Linked DNA regions of Homo sapiens: region 2 is reported to be linked to region 1. The links are microRNA targets in miRTarBase. Many come from high-throughput screens and were not tested one by one. Region 1 holds a microRNA gene; the other region holds the end of a gene's coding sequence.
What was found. The annotated mature microRNA hsa-miR-371a-3p reads AAGUGCCGCCAUCUUUUGAGUGU and lies in region 1 at 2,782-2,804, opposite strand. An mRNA with a match to its seed (bases 2 to 7 or 8) in the 3' UTR can be bound and repressed. Matches are read on the target gene's strand: a 7mer-m8 pairs with bases 2 to 8, a 7mer-A1 pairs with bases 2 to 7 and ends in A, and an 8mer does both.

Region 2: miRTarBase lists ESCO2 as a target of hsa-miR-371a-3p. The part of its 3' UTR that is shown has no 7-base or 8-base seed match.

The regions. Positions count from the first base shown.
Region 1 is chr19:53,783,398-53,790,519 of GRCh38, reverse strand. It overlaps MIR371A (microRNA 371a), which reads right to left and starts at 2,845; the gene lies at 2,779-2,845. MIR371B (microRNA 371b) reads left to right here and starts at 2,778; the gene lies at 2,778-2,843. MIR372 (microRNA 372) reads right to left here and starts at 2,630; the gene lies at 2,564-2,630. MIR373 (microRNA 373) reads right to left here and starts at 1,815; the gene lies at 1,747-1,815. It also overlaps LOC124904767.
Region 2 is chr8:27,802,398-27,809,509 of GRCh38, forward strand. It overlaps ESCO2 (establishment of sister chromatid cohesion N-acetyltransferase 2), which reads left to right. Exons shown (of 11, transcript NM_001017420.3): 11 at 909-2,919. The coding sequence ends at 1,041. Among named protein-coding and RNA genes, the nearest start is that of ESCO2, 31 kb to the left of the region's middle.

The DNA of each region.
Region 1 (7,122 bases):
AAGAGAAGTCTTACTGGTTACCGTGGCGGACTCCCCACCAGTGGTGGCGGTATTGGGACAGAGGCTACAACTGCTTTATGAATTGCGGGTACAAATAGCAAAACAAAACTCCCTTGAATTTGAGATCTTACTTCAGTTCAGATACTGTGGAGTGGGCAAAGCAGCCGCAAGGGTTTGGAACACCTACAGGGGATAGGAAAACTTACAGGGGATAGTGGCCAGCAGACCCGGAAACCAGTGATAGGGCAAACAGCAACTAAGAACCTACTGAAGGCCCCACGTGGTGGCTCACGCCTATAATCCCAGCACTTTGGGAGGCCGAGGTGGGTGGATCACCTGGGGTCAGGAGTTCCAGAGCAGCCTGGCCAACGTGGAGAAATCCCATCTCTAAAAAATGCAAAAAATTAGCCAGGCGTGGTGGCTTATGCCTGTAATCCCAGCTACTTGGGAGGCGGGGGCAGGAGAATCGCTTAAGCTGGCAGAGGTTGCAGTGAACCAAGATTGCGCCATTGCGCTCCAACCTGAGCGAGAGCACGAGACCATCTGAAGCAAAAAAACCTTCCAAATATGAACTTAGGCCTGGCACTGTGGCTCACACCCATCATCCCAGGGAGGCCACCCAGGGCAAGACAGTAAAGCCCCATCTCTACTAAAGGAGGGATGTTTGATTCCCCCTAAGTTTCAGACCAAGCTGGCCAATGTATGAGACCCCAATTTCTACTAAACATTAGTGGAGCATGGCGGGGACACTCCTGTGGTGCCAGCTACTAAGGGTGGGGTGAGGGGGGGCTTATATGGGAAGATCTTTTGATCTAGGGAGCTCAGGCCTGCAGGGAGCTGTGATGGTGCCACCACACTTCAGCCTGGGTGGTTTTTATTTTTTGAGACAGTTATCGCTGTCACCCAGGCTGGAGTGCAGTGGCACAACCTCGGCTGGCTGCAAGCTCCACCTCCCGGGTTCATGCCCTTTCTGCCTCAGCCTGTGACTACAGGCACCCACCGCCATGCCCGGCTAATGTTTTTGTATTTTTTAGTAGAGATGTGGTTTCACCGTGTGAGCCAGGATGGTCTTGATCTGACCTCATGATCAGCCTGCGTCGGCCTCGGCAGTGCTGCCACTGTGCCCGGCCTTACTTTTTAAACTTGTTTGAAGTTTAAAGAGCAGAACTCTCAAAGAGCATAACTCTAAGTTCTAGCAGGGGTAGAAGGGAAGCACAAAATACTGACAAGTATTTTTAGGCAATGTACTTGGGTCATAGAAGAAGGTTCAGTAACGCCAGACATGAGGCTCATGCCTGTAATCCCAGCACTTGTGGGTGGCAGAGGAACCCAATAGACCAGAAACACATGATGTTGTTCACATTTTATTAAAAAAAAAAGTTAGGAAAAGTGAGACTGTGGCATTGTCCGTGTAGCAGGGTGGAAGCACTCCAGCCCATGCTCTGGCCAAACCCACTTCAAGCCTTACATGCATGCTGCCTACCAAATTCAGGAACAGGACCCCAAATTCCCTTTAAGGCCAACCAGATTCCCCCGACACCCCATCAAGCTTTTCCTGCCCTGTTCATCTGCAGGTGAACCCCGTATCCTGCCCACCCCAGAATATGCCAATTTTTATTATCTAAAATGGAGCATACAGACTGGTGCCCCGCAGAGAAGCCCGGGAACTCCAGGTCATAGCTGAAGCTGCAGTCAGACCCGCAGGCTCCCTTGAAGCAGGATGGTTCGTGATGCCCTACTCAAACAGGGACACCCCAAAATCGAAGCACTTCCCAGTACAGACAAAAAGGAAAGCGCCCCCATTTTGAGTATCCCAGTATGAGCTCCTCGCGAGGATCTGCCATCACTGTGACTTTCTTGCCTACAAGAGGTTGGCCTCCAATCATCCAAGCACATGTTAAATGTCAGCAATAAACTTGCTTGCTATGGGGGAAGAGGAAAGTTACATATCAATTATAACACCAACAGCAAAAAGCATTCCTTTCTTTGTGCATACAGCCCCTTGGTCACAGCTGCTGTTTTTTTTTTTTTTTTTCTTTGAGAATGAGTCTTGCTCTGTCGCCCAGGCTGGAGTGCGGTGGCGCGATCTCGGCTCACTGCAAACTCCGCCTCCCGGGTTCACGCCATTCTCCTGCCTCAGCCTCCCAAGTAGCTGGGACTACAGGCGCCCGCCACCACGCCCGGCTCATTTTTTGTATTTTTAGTAGAGACGGGGTTTCACCGTGTTAGCCAGGATGGTCTCGATCTCCTGACCTCGTGATCCGCCTGCCTCGGCCTCCCAACGTGCTGGGATTACAGGTGTGAGCCGCCGCGCCCGGCGCAGGCGCACAGCCGCCCTCTGAACCTTCTCTTCCTTTCACCATCTAACCCAGATTCCCTTAGTTGTGTCAGGTGAGAGCCCAGGAGGCCCCCTTCCCTTCCCCAGGTTTTCCGGAGCCATTACAGCCAGACGCTGTAAGGGACCTGTACCCAAGACAGTTTCCGGCTGGGAATCGAAACCACAGGCTCTTTAGTTCCTGCAGAAGACCGAGCTCCACGGCATCCGTTGATATGGGCGTCACCGGTGACGCTCAAATGTCGCAGCACTTTCCACTTGGACATCAGAATAGTGCTCCACATTTGAGGCCCACAGGGTGAGCAGCTCCATCTGCAAGAGCCCCGGCCAAGAAATTTATATCACGAGGAAACGGCCATAGGCAGGGTCTAGGGCCATCCTGCTACCCGCCCCCTCACCCAATCAAAATGGTATCTTCTCCGCAGGTTGAGTCTTCTCAAGCGGTAACACTCAAAAGATGGCGGCACTTTCACCAGAGAGCAGAAAGTGCCCCCACAGTTTGAGTGCCACAGGCTGAGGGGATGCGGCAAGGCGGCGATCGCAAGTGGAAGCACTTACCCATCAGAAGAGGCTTTTAAGCAAGGAGGTGGAGAGTAGCCCTTGATGAGCTGTTGAAGGTCTACAAAGCACGAATTTAACGACCCTTTCTTAAAAAGTAAAAAACAAGGCTTTCCACGTATAGATATTCAAAGCACTCCCCCGCCCATAGCCTCCAGATGCAAGCCATGAGGACTGAGTACAATGCAAGTAGGAAGGAACACGTGTGAGGGACAGTGGGGCCTTCGTCCTTAAGACTGAAAAAAAATCACAGAAATAGAACAAAAGTACAGCCCGGCTGGGCGGAGTGGCTCAAGCCTGTAGTCCCAGCTACTCGGAAGGCTACGGTGGTAGGATTGCTCTTGAGCCCAGGAGTTCGAGACCAGCTTGGATAACATAGAAAACCCCATCTCTCCTAAAAAAAAAAAAAAAAAAGCAGAAAAACGCACATGGGAATGGTGGTGCGCGCCTGTGGTCCCAGCTACTGGAGGCTAAAAGGGTGAGTCCCAGGAGGTCGAGGCTGCAAGGCGCCATCATCCTACCTGTGCACTTCATCCTGGGCGACAGTGAGATCCTGACCCTAAAAAATAAAGTAAAATGAAAGAAAATAAAATAACATAGCAATACTCACAGAGGCCAATGATACGTCCACACCTCAGGTCTGCCAGAAAGAACAAGGTTCACTGCAGCTGCGTTCTTATATAGGGTGAGAGCCCACTCAACTTTGATAGGATTAAAGCCCACCCCTTCCCACCCTCTCATTCCCCCTGGTCTCCGCCCCAAGCCACCCTGCTCCCTTTGATCCTAGCTTGCCTTAGTCAGACACACCTTCATAAACTTTTTCAAACACTGATTCAAATAGAAATTAGGTGATCCCTATTACTAGTAACGCCAACATGTATTCGTTATAAATACATTGGAAAACACAGAGAAATAACCAGAAGAAAATCATTCCACCAGTCATCCACTCAACAAATATTTAAATATAGTATTTTGGCAGAGCGCAGTGGCTCACACCTGTAATCCCAGCACTTTGGGAGGCCGAGGCGGACGATCACTTGAGGCCGGGAGTTCGAGACTAGCCTGGGCAACATGGCGAAACCCCGTCTCTACCAAAAAAATACAAAAATTACCCACGCATGGTGGTGTGCACCTGTAATCTCAGCTGCTTGGGAGGCTGAGGCAAGAGAATTGCTTGAACCCGGGAGGCAGAGGTTGCAGTGAGCCAAGATTGTGCCACTGCATTCCAGCCTGGGGACAGAGTGAGACCGTGTCTCAAAAAATAAATAAATAGGCTGGGCACAGTGGCTCATGCCTATAATGCCAGAACTTCAGGAGGCCGAGGCAGGCAGATCACGAGGTCAAGCGATCGAGACCATCCTAGCCAACATGGTCTCTACTAAAAATACAAAAATTAGCTCGGCGTGGTGGTGGATACCTGTAGTCCCAGCTCCTCGGGAGGCTGAGGCAGGGGAATTGCTTGAACCCAGGAGGCAGAGGTTGCAGTGAGCCAAGATCGCCCCACTGCACTCCAGCCTGGGTGACAGAGTGAGACTCCATCTCAAAAATAATAATAATAAATTTTAAAAAAATAAAAAAGCTGGGTGCGGTGTGGCTCACACCTATAATCCCTGCTACTCAGGGGGCTGAGGTGGGAGAATCCTTTGAACCCTGGAGGTGGAGGTTGCGGTGAGCCGAGATCACACCACTGCACTCCATTCTGGGCGACAGAGTGAGACTTAGTCTCAAAAAAAAAAAGAGAGGGAGAAAAGAAAAAAACAGTGCGGCAGTGAACATTTTTGAGAGCAACTTTGATAAAAAAGCGGAAACATTTCTGATTTTATTTAATGAAACCACTAGAGTTCCTTTGACCTTGAGGCATAGAGAGGAACTCAAAAAGGTGGGTGTTGGAGAGGTGAGGAGGGGCTTGAAAATGGTAAGTGCTCAAAATAATGAATGACTCAAGGAAGGGGAAGACTTGGGGCCCCAGGAGGCCAGGGTTTCCTTCCCATTTGTAATCCTAGCCAGCTGCGGGAGTACGTGCTCAACCTTTCTGGTTAAACCTAGTTCCTTCATCAATGAAAATGTACAGCATTTGCTGCAAAGGATGGCGAGAGATAGAAATGAGACAGCAAATAGCATGTTTGGCGAGAATCGCTAGAACCCAGGAGGCAGAGGTTGCAGTGAGCTCACATCACGCCACTGCACTCCAGCCTGGGTGATAGAGCCAGACTCCATCTCAAAAAAAAAAAAATTCTTGCTTTGATCTTTGTCAAGGTTGCGGGAGGTCAGTGCTTATGTCCTTACAGCTCAGCCATCCAGATTCCTATCTAACCTACTCACTCCTCTCACACTGCACCTGGATTTTCTGCTATTTGTGAACCACCTGGATGATCTCTCGGGTATTTCCTAGAACTCGGCTTTTTCTCATCACCTCATTTTGTCTTTGCAAATTTCTCCTTTAAGGGCGGCTTTCTTCTCCTGCCCTTGGGCCAGCACAGCGAGTTCATTGCTGACTTTTTTTTTTTTTTTTTGAGACGGAGTCTCCCTCAGCCACCCGGGCTGGAGTGCAGTGGCTCGATCTCGGCTCACCACAACCTTCGCCTCCCAGGTTCAAGTGATTCTCCTGCCTCAGCCTCCCGAATAGCTGAAATTACAGGCATGTGCCACCACGCCGGCTAATTTTGTATTTTTAGTAGAGACGGGGTTTCTCCATGTTGGTCAGGCTGTTCTCAAACTCTCAAACTCAGGTGATCTGCCCGCCTCGGCCTCCCAAAGTGCTGGGAATACAGGCGTGAGCCACCGCACCCGGCCAACGTTTGTATTTTTGAATATAAAAAATGTTATTAGTGCAATTGAATTTAATCAACATTCAACAAAGAGTATAGTCAAAGACGATTTTTAAGTGCATTTGAAAGAGGACTGCAGGCAGTGGCTCAAGCCTGTAATCTCAGCAATTTGGAAAGCTGAGGTGGGAGGATCTCTTCAGCCCATGAGTTCAAGGCTGCAGTGAGGCCTGATCCTGCCACTGAACTCCAGCCCAGGTGACAGAGCAAGACCCCATCCCTGGAAAGAAAGAAAAAAGAAAAGAAAAAAGATCCGCTGGGCACGGTGGCTCACACCTGTAATCTCAGCACTTTGGGAGGCCGAGGTGGGCGGATCACCTGAGGTCGGGAGTTCAAGACCAGCCTGGCCAACATGGAGAAACTCCGTCTCTACTAAAAATACAAAATTAGCCGGGGTGGTGGTGCATGCTACTCAGGAGGTTGAGGCAGGAGAATCGCTTGAACCCGGGAGGCGGAGGTTGTGGTGAGCCGAGATCGCGCCATTGCACTCTAGCCTGGGCAACAAGAGCAAAACTCTGTCTCAAAAAAAAAAAAAAACAAAGAATAAAGAAAAAATATCCAATGTGATATTTTACTTTTTTGTTGTATAATTTGTTTAAAAATATAGAGATGGGCTGGGCATAGTGGCTCATTCCTGTAATCCCAGCACTTTGGGAGGCTGATGCAGGCGGATCAGTTGAGGTCAGGAGTTCAAGACCAGCCTGGTCAACATAAGAAAACCCCGTCTCTACTAAAAAATACAAAAATTAGCCCGGTGTGGTGGTGGGCGCCTGTAATCCCAGCTACTCGGGAGGCTGAGGCAGGGAGAAATGCTTGAACCTGGGAGGCAGAGGTTGCAGTGAGCCGAGATCACACCATTCACTTTAGCCTGTGTGACAGGGCAAGACTCCGTCTCAAAAAAAGAAAAAGAAAGAAAGAAAAAAAATACATATATATATATATATATATGAGAGAGAGAGAGAGAGAGAGAAGAGAGAGAGAGAGAGGGAGATGCTGGTCTTGCTTTGTTGCCTAGGCTGGTCTCAAACTCCTGGGCTCAAGCGAACCTCTCACCTTGGCCTCCCAAAGTGCTGGGATTACAGGCATAAGCCACCACGCCTGGCCCAATTTGACTTTTTTTTTGACAATTGATAACATTGGTGGTGAGACCAGTTTAAGACTTGACCTTCCCCCCCCACAACCAGGCTTGACAAGAAAAATCAAATTGAAAAAAATTTAAAATTCAAGATGCGCTTCTTAGATTTTCATTCTGACCTGACAAGTATAGTTGATCTGGTCTTGTATTATTGCGGTAATTCAACACACATATTTAACGTAAAGCCTCAAATTGTAATAATTGTATTAACTATTAGTGAACTTTAAGTGTCAATTTATCTTTACTCTTAAATGAGCTCTTTGAAAAAA
Region 2 (7,112 bases), not on the chromosome of region 1:
CAATCCTGGCCAACATGGAGAAACCCTGTCTCTACTAAAAAAAAATAAATAAATACCAAATTAGCCGGGTGTGGTGGTGCATGCCTGTAATCCCAGCTACTCGGGAGGCTGAGGCAGGAGAATCGCTTGAACCCGGGAGGCGGAGGTTTGTAGTGAGCAGAGATCGTGCCACTGCACTCCAGCCTGGGCGACAAAGTGAGACTCTGTCTCAAAAAAAAAAAAAAAAAAAAAAAATATATATATATATATATATATATATTATATATATATATATATAGTTACTGCTTAAGATTGATTTTTTTTGGTTCTAATTATCTTTGGCTTTTAATTAACAATATGATCTTTTTTTTATTTTTATTTTTTGATTGAGTTGGAGTCTCACTCTGTTACCCAGGCTGGAGTGCAGTGGCGAGATATCGGCTCACTGCAACCTCCGCCTCCTGGGTTTAAGTGATTCTCCTGCCTCAGCTTCCCAAGTAGCTGGGACTACAGGCATGCACCACCATGCCCGGCTAATTTTTGTATTTTTAGTAGAGACAGGGTTTCACCGTGTTAGGATAGTCTCGACCTCGTGATCCGTCCGCCTTGGCCTCCCAAAGTGCTGGGATTACAGGCGTGTGCCACTGCGCCTGGCCTAGCAATATGATCTTATATTAGTTGCTCTTTACCATGGATATCCTAGAGTTAGGTGGATGGTTCCCTTTGCCTCTCATCAGAATTTTTTCTGGACCTTAGTTTTCCCATCTGTGAAATGATATCATTAGACTTCTGTCTCTAAAATATAAGGCATTTTTTCACTTACTAAAAATAAGGTTGATTTAAGTCAAGAGTATTTACTTAAATTGTGCTCATGTTAATTAGAATGTTAAGTTGCTTCCATCATTAAATCATCTTTTCTTCTCTTTTAGGAATTGCTTCATGTTTGGCTGTTTTCTCAGCACTGATGAAATAGCATTTTCTGACCCAACACCAGATGGCAAGTTATTTGCAACCAAGTACTGCAACACCCCTAATTTCCTCGTATATAATTTTAATAGTTAAAGCTGATTTCAGTTATAAAGGAGTTACTATCTGGATAAGTTCAAAGAGCTCCTTATTATAAAATACAAACTATTTAATATCAAAATAAAAAATACCGAGACTCACACTCATACACACACACACACACACGCACACACACATATCACAGTTTTGTTCCTTATGAGTTGAAAAGTCAGGAATAAATTTGTTGAAAATTATCTGGGGATTCAAAGGAAAAATCTTTGGGTGATTCCCTGATTAGCACTCTGAATGTTTAATTATGAAACTTTGTAGCTATAACTGGAAAATTACCTGACTCTTTGTAAGAGTATTAAATACAAAGTGATTTTTCTCTAGAAATGTGACCTGGTCTTTTATAAAGCCCACTCTTAGACCAGGATTATCTAATGCCACATCAGAAGCAAACAGGCAAATTTAAACTTGGGCAAGTAATTTCTGTGCCCAATTTGTAAAGGGAATTCCTGAATTTTTTTTTTTTTTTAATAGAGGCATGGGTCTCACTGTGTTGCCCAGGCTGGTCTGAAACTTTTGGGCTCAAGCGATCCTCCCAAAACGCTGGGATTACAGTCATGAGCCACCGTGCCCAGCCTAATTCCTGACTTCTCTATACAGAGTCTTCACTTGATAGGCACTCGTCTGTAGTAACTCAGTTTGAATATCTTTAGAAAATGTTTAGAATTTATTTGTAACAAGATGGTAAGGAATAAGATTATCCCATATGCATTTCTGTAGAGCAGAATTTGATAGCTTAGTGTTCAATCTTTTTGAAAATAAATGTTTACCTGTCATCAGATTTAATTAAAATTATACTTAGTAATTGCACTATTACTTAGTTAATTTTTGTTGTATGGAAATATTGGTAGTACTACTTTGGGAACCTGTTACTGACAATTGATGTCATTAACAAAATGCCTAGTTGGATTAGATGTTTTCATTTTCTAATTTTTTGCTTGTTTAAAATGCACCTTACTTGTTCTGAGATACCTGGCAAAAGTCTTTACAAAATGTATGGTAATAGAACCAAGGTTAGTAAATATACATAGGCTGGTGGATGAGAGACCATGGAACTGTGTAAATACACTTAAATGTTCACACATTTTTCTAGTGTAATTCTTGGATACTTTAAAAAGCAAAACATTGTTCAAATTGTTTTGATTCTGAAAAATCATTCAACTGCTAACTGGCAATAAGACTCTAGGCAAGTCGTTTTCCAGATTGTAATTATATGTAGAAACTATTCATCTGCATTCATTTTATTTGCCTGTAAGTTAACATGTTTCCAAAATTTAAAAGCCTGGGTCCCCAAAAGAATGTGGAAGTATTAAAATGTATGTAATTATGCAAACATTTTAATGCTATTTTCTGCACTTATTTCTTTTAAATATTTTATTTAAAATTTTTAATTAACATTTTGTTTGCTTAATGCTTTTGTTATGAATCAATTAAAATTCTTTATTTTATACAACTAAATCTGATTTTAATTATTTTATTATGAAAATAGTATATGTTAAATAAAATTCAGATAATACAGAAATAGAGATTGCCAAAAGAAGAGGCTTCCCGGCCGGGCGCGGTGGCTCACGCCTGTAATCCCAGCACTTTGGGAGGCCGAGGCGGGTGGATCATGAGGTCAGGAGATCGAGACCATCCTGGCTAACAAGGTGAAACCCCGTCTCTACTAAAAATACAAAAAATTAGCCGGGCGCGGTGGCGGGCGCCTGTAGTCCCAGCTACTCGGGAGGCTGAGGCAGGAGAATGGCGTGAACCCGGGAGGCGAGCTTGCAGTGAGCCGAGATTGCGCCACTGCAGTCCGCAGTCCGGCCTGGGCGACAGAGCGAGACTCCGTCTCAAAAAAAAAAAAAAAAAAAAAAAAAAAAAAGAAGAGGCTTCCCTTAATCCTGCTTTGAGTTTAGTGCTTATTACTTTAGAATAACTAAATACATATGCAGTTATTTTGCATCTTGCCTCACTTCAGTATGTCTTAGATATGTTGTATTTCAAGAACTATTTCTATTTTAAATATTTAGCATGATTTGCTATTGATACTGTTGTCTTGGTTGGGTGTTTTTTGTTTGTTTGTTTGTTTTGTTTTTAAGTATAACACATACAAGAAGCAAGTGCACTGAGATGGTCTCAAAGCAATGATACCCTAATGGCAATGAGCACACCTACCACCCAGATCTTGGTTGGTTTCTTTCTTTTTTTCCCCCGCCCTGGGCTGAAGTGCAGTGGTACAAACACGGCTCACTGCAGCCTCGACCTCCCAGGTTCAAGTGATCTTCCCGCCTGAGCTCCCTAAGTAGCTGGGACTACAGGTGTGTGTCACCACGTCTGCTTAATTTTTGTATTCTTTTTTTAGTAGAGACAGAGTGTCACCATGGTGCCCAGCCAGTCCTTAAGCTCCTGAGGCCCTTGAGCTCCTGAGCTGAAGTGATCCTCCCACTTCAGCCTCCCAAAGTGCTGGATTATAGGTGTGAGCCACGGCACCCAGCCAGATCTTGCTTACTAATACCTTCTTCCACAAAAGGACCTGGGGCTCTTTGGAGAAATGGCTCATTCTAGGGATAGGGCAATGAATGTACAAGATGAGCCTAGATCACCTTGTACATCCCCCCTTATCTGCAATTTCGCTTCCCACAGTTTGTTACCAAAAATATTGCATGGAAATTTCTAGAAGTAAGGAATTCATAAGTTTTAAATTGCCCACCATTCAGAGTAGCCACAGTGGGGTGATAAGTGCTCAGTTAAGATGGAAAAGGCATTAAATTTGTGGGCAGAAGACATGCACAGAAACATATTCCTATTGAGGGCAATCAGGTTGAGTACTGTCCATGGTTTCAGGCATTCTACTGGGGGTCTTTGTCATAAATTGTGCCAATATATGTGTATGTCTATTTCTGCCTGTGTATTCTTACTAATTTTATATAGGTTCTATTTATGCTAATACCAGACTGTGTTAATTATAGTATCAATGTTTGCTATAGTATTAGTACATGGTCCCACTTTTTTTCTTCGGTCTATTATTGGACTTTGCATTTCCATATACATTTTAGAATCAATTTATTCCACAAAAAGCTACCAACAACAAAAAAGCCTGTTGGGATTTTATTGGAATTGTGTCAGATCTATAGATCAATTTGGGAGGACTGATTTTTAGACTTGCTCAAGTATTGGATACTTTCTTTTTTTTTTTTTTTTTAGACGGAGTTTTGCTCTTGTTGCCCAGGCTGGAGTGCATTGGCACTATCTTGGCTCACTGCAACCTCCACCTCCCGGGTTCAAGCTATTGTCTGCCTCAGCCTCCAGTAGCTGGGATTCCAGGTGCATGCCACCACGCCCAGCTAATTTTGTATTTTTAGTAGAGACGGGGTTTTACCATGTTGGCCAGGCTGGTCTTTAACTCTTGACCTCCAATAATCCACCCACTTCAGCCTCCCAAAGTCCTGGGATTATAGGCATGAGCCAGTATGCCCAGCTGTTACTTTTTTTTAAGCCATTGGGAAAAGTGTTTTAAGTTACATCTTGTTTGCTGATATATAAACTACAAGTTTTCTGTTTTGACTTTGTATTCACAATCTTTCTAAACTTAATTAATTCTAATTTATCTATTTCTATCTACATAATATCTGTGAATGAGTTTTCTTTTAGAATCTTACAGCTTTTTTGTTCTTACAATATTGCATTTCTAAGATTGCCAGTCTAGTACAGTGTTGAATAAAAGCAATGGTAGGGGGCATATTTGTTTCATTGCTGATAATAGGTAAAGTTTTCAACATTTTACTATTAAATATAAGGTTTATAGTTTCTTTGTAGATAAATTTCTAATATTAAGGAAGTTCCTCTGTCTATTCCTAGGTTTCTAGGAAGCTCTCAAACATCTTGAACAGATACTCAGATTTTATAAAAAGTCTTTCTTCTATCTTTGGAGATGATTTTGATTTTTCTTTATTGTTAATATGGCGGTTACATTGTTCTTTGAATGTTAAAGCAATCTAGCCTCCCTGAACTAAATAAACCAAACCCAATTTGGTCTTGATGTTTTTCTTTTTAATGTTATTGGCTTCAGTGAACTAGTTTTCTTTTGGACTTTTCATGTGTTCTTGAATAAGATTGGGTATCTGTAGGATCTGTAGTAAAGGTTTTTTCATTCATGACATGTCTTTTTTCTCCACAGATGAGTTTTGCCTAGGGGTTTATCAATTTTGTTAGTATTTTTGAAGATTGGCATTGTTAATCCTATCATAGGTTTGTTTTCTATTTCCTGTAAGTTTTAATTTTTTCCCCCCATTGGAAGGGAGGTACTATGGTCTGAATGTGTTCTACCAAAAATTGTATGTTGAAACCCTGTCCCCCAAGATGATGTAATACCATCGTAAGTAGTGTCTTTAGGAAGGTGAATGGGTCATGATGGTGGAAGGAACCCTTAGGGATTAATGCCCTTATAAAAATAGAGGGTCGGGGAGCTCCCTTGCTCTGTCCACCATGTAAAGACACAGCCAGAAGGTGCCTTCTATGAGGATGCCCTCACCAGATACCATCTTGATCTTGGACTTCCTAGTCTCTGGAACTATGAGAAATTTCTGTGGTTTGAGGCACCTCGTTTATGGTATTTTTGTTATAGTAGTCTAAGACGGGAGACTTGTTTTGTTTTTCCCAAATTCTTAGCTGATATATATAGCATTTTTTTATATATAGTTTTTATATGTAGCATTTGTCTAGTTTAAAATCCTTTCTAATTTTTATTCTAATCAACAGATTGTAGAAGATTAAATAGGTACCAGGAGACATGAAAGAATCATCTTCAACATTTCTCAAGTAGCTGCTGATTATCTCCTTTTATGGAGGCATAACAAGCTCCTGGAGGCTTCTACAGATTCTAAAGGGAAAGATTTCCTGGGAGGTGAGAAAGCCACTTGAGAGAAGGCTATTTTGATTTACTAATTAATTCAGTGTAAAGGTAGTCCTGGGCACGGTGGCTCACGCCTATAATCCCAGCAGTTTGAGAGGCCTAGACAGAGGTTGCTCAGGAGTTCCAGAGCAGCCTGAGCAACTTGGTAAAACCCTGTCTCTACAAAAAATAAAAAAAAAAAAATTAGCCAGGTGTGGTGGCACACACCTGTGGTCCCAGCTACTCGGAGTGGGAGGCAGAGGTGCAAGGATCACTTGTGCCTGGGAGGTTGAGACTGCAGTGAGCCATGATTGCCCCACTGTACTCCAGCCTGAGTGACAGAGCAAGACCCTGTCTCAAAAAAAAAAAAAAAAAAAGCCCTCAGCCAAGTCACATGTTGCTCTTTTGAGAATGAGGCAAATGTCCAAAAAGATAACATCTGAGACTTAGAGCAAGTTCTAGAACAAGAATAAAAAAAATTTTCTTCCAGTTGGTAGCAGATTGTCTGCAATCTTGTGTTGAGGATTTCTAGGACCTCACCAGACTCAAGGGGCAGTGCATGCTGGGATTATTTTGTAATGTCTACCATAGACAAGGGCTGTGAATTTGCTGGTCTTGTCCTTGGTATTAGTTTATTCCTATTAGATATCTCAACTGTAGGAAGTGGAAATAAATTTCTCAATGAAAAGCAATGGCTTATGTATTAAAGAGCCAATTCAAGAAAGATCCAGTTCCTGCTTTAAGTCTTAAAGCAGGAACTGCTATTCCTGCTAGGAAAAGAATGCCCTGGAGAAGCTGCTCTGTTGGCTTGGCAAAGAAGAGTGACACATGTCAGAGTGAGGATAAGAGACCCTATTGAGTATCAGGATGCAAAATTATACATACGTTTTTCTACAAATTAAGACAACTTCCAATTTACTTGTCACATTATTTTGATGGAATATATGCAAATTAATGTTGTGTCCTATTGCTTGGTACAATCTTATACCAAAAGGCCTTCAGTGATTTCTAGGCATTTTTAAAGTTCAGAGTGCAGTTGTTCCTAATGTTTCTGAGAACGCCCTGTGTCGGTAATTTTTAAAATTCTGTCTACACCCAAATGTAGGTATACCACCTACATTGGCAATTCAGTAATTTGGAAAATTCCCAGGGGACTGTGGCTTACAGAAACTACTGATCCAAA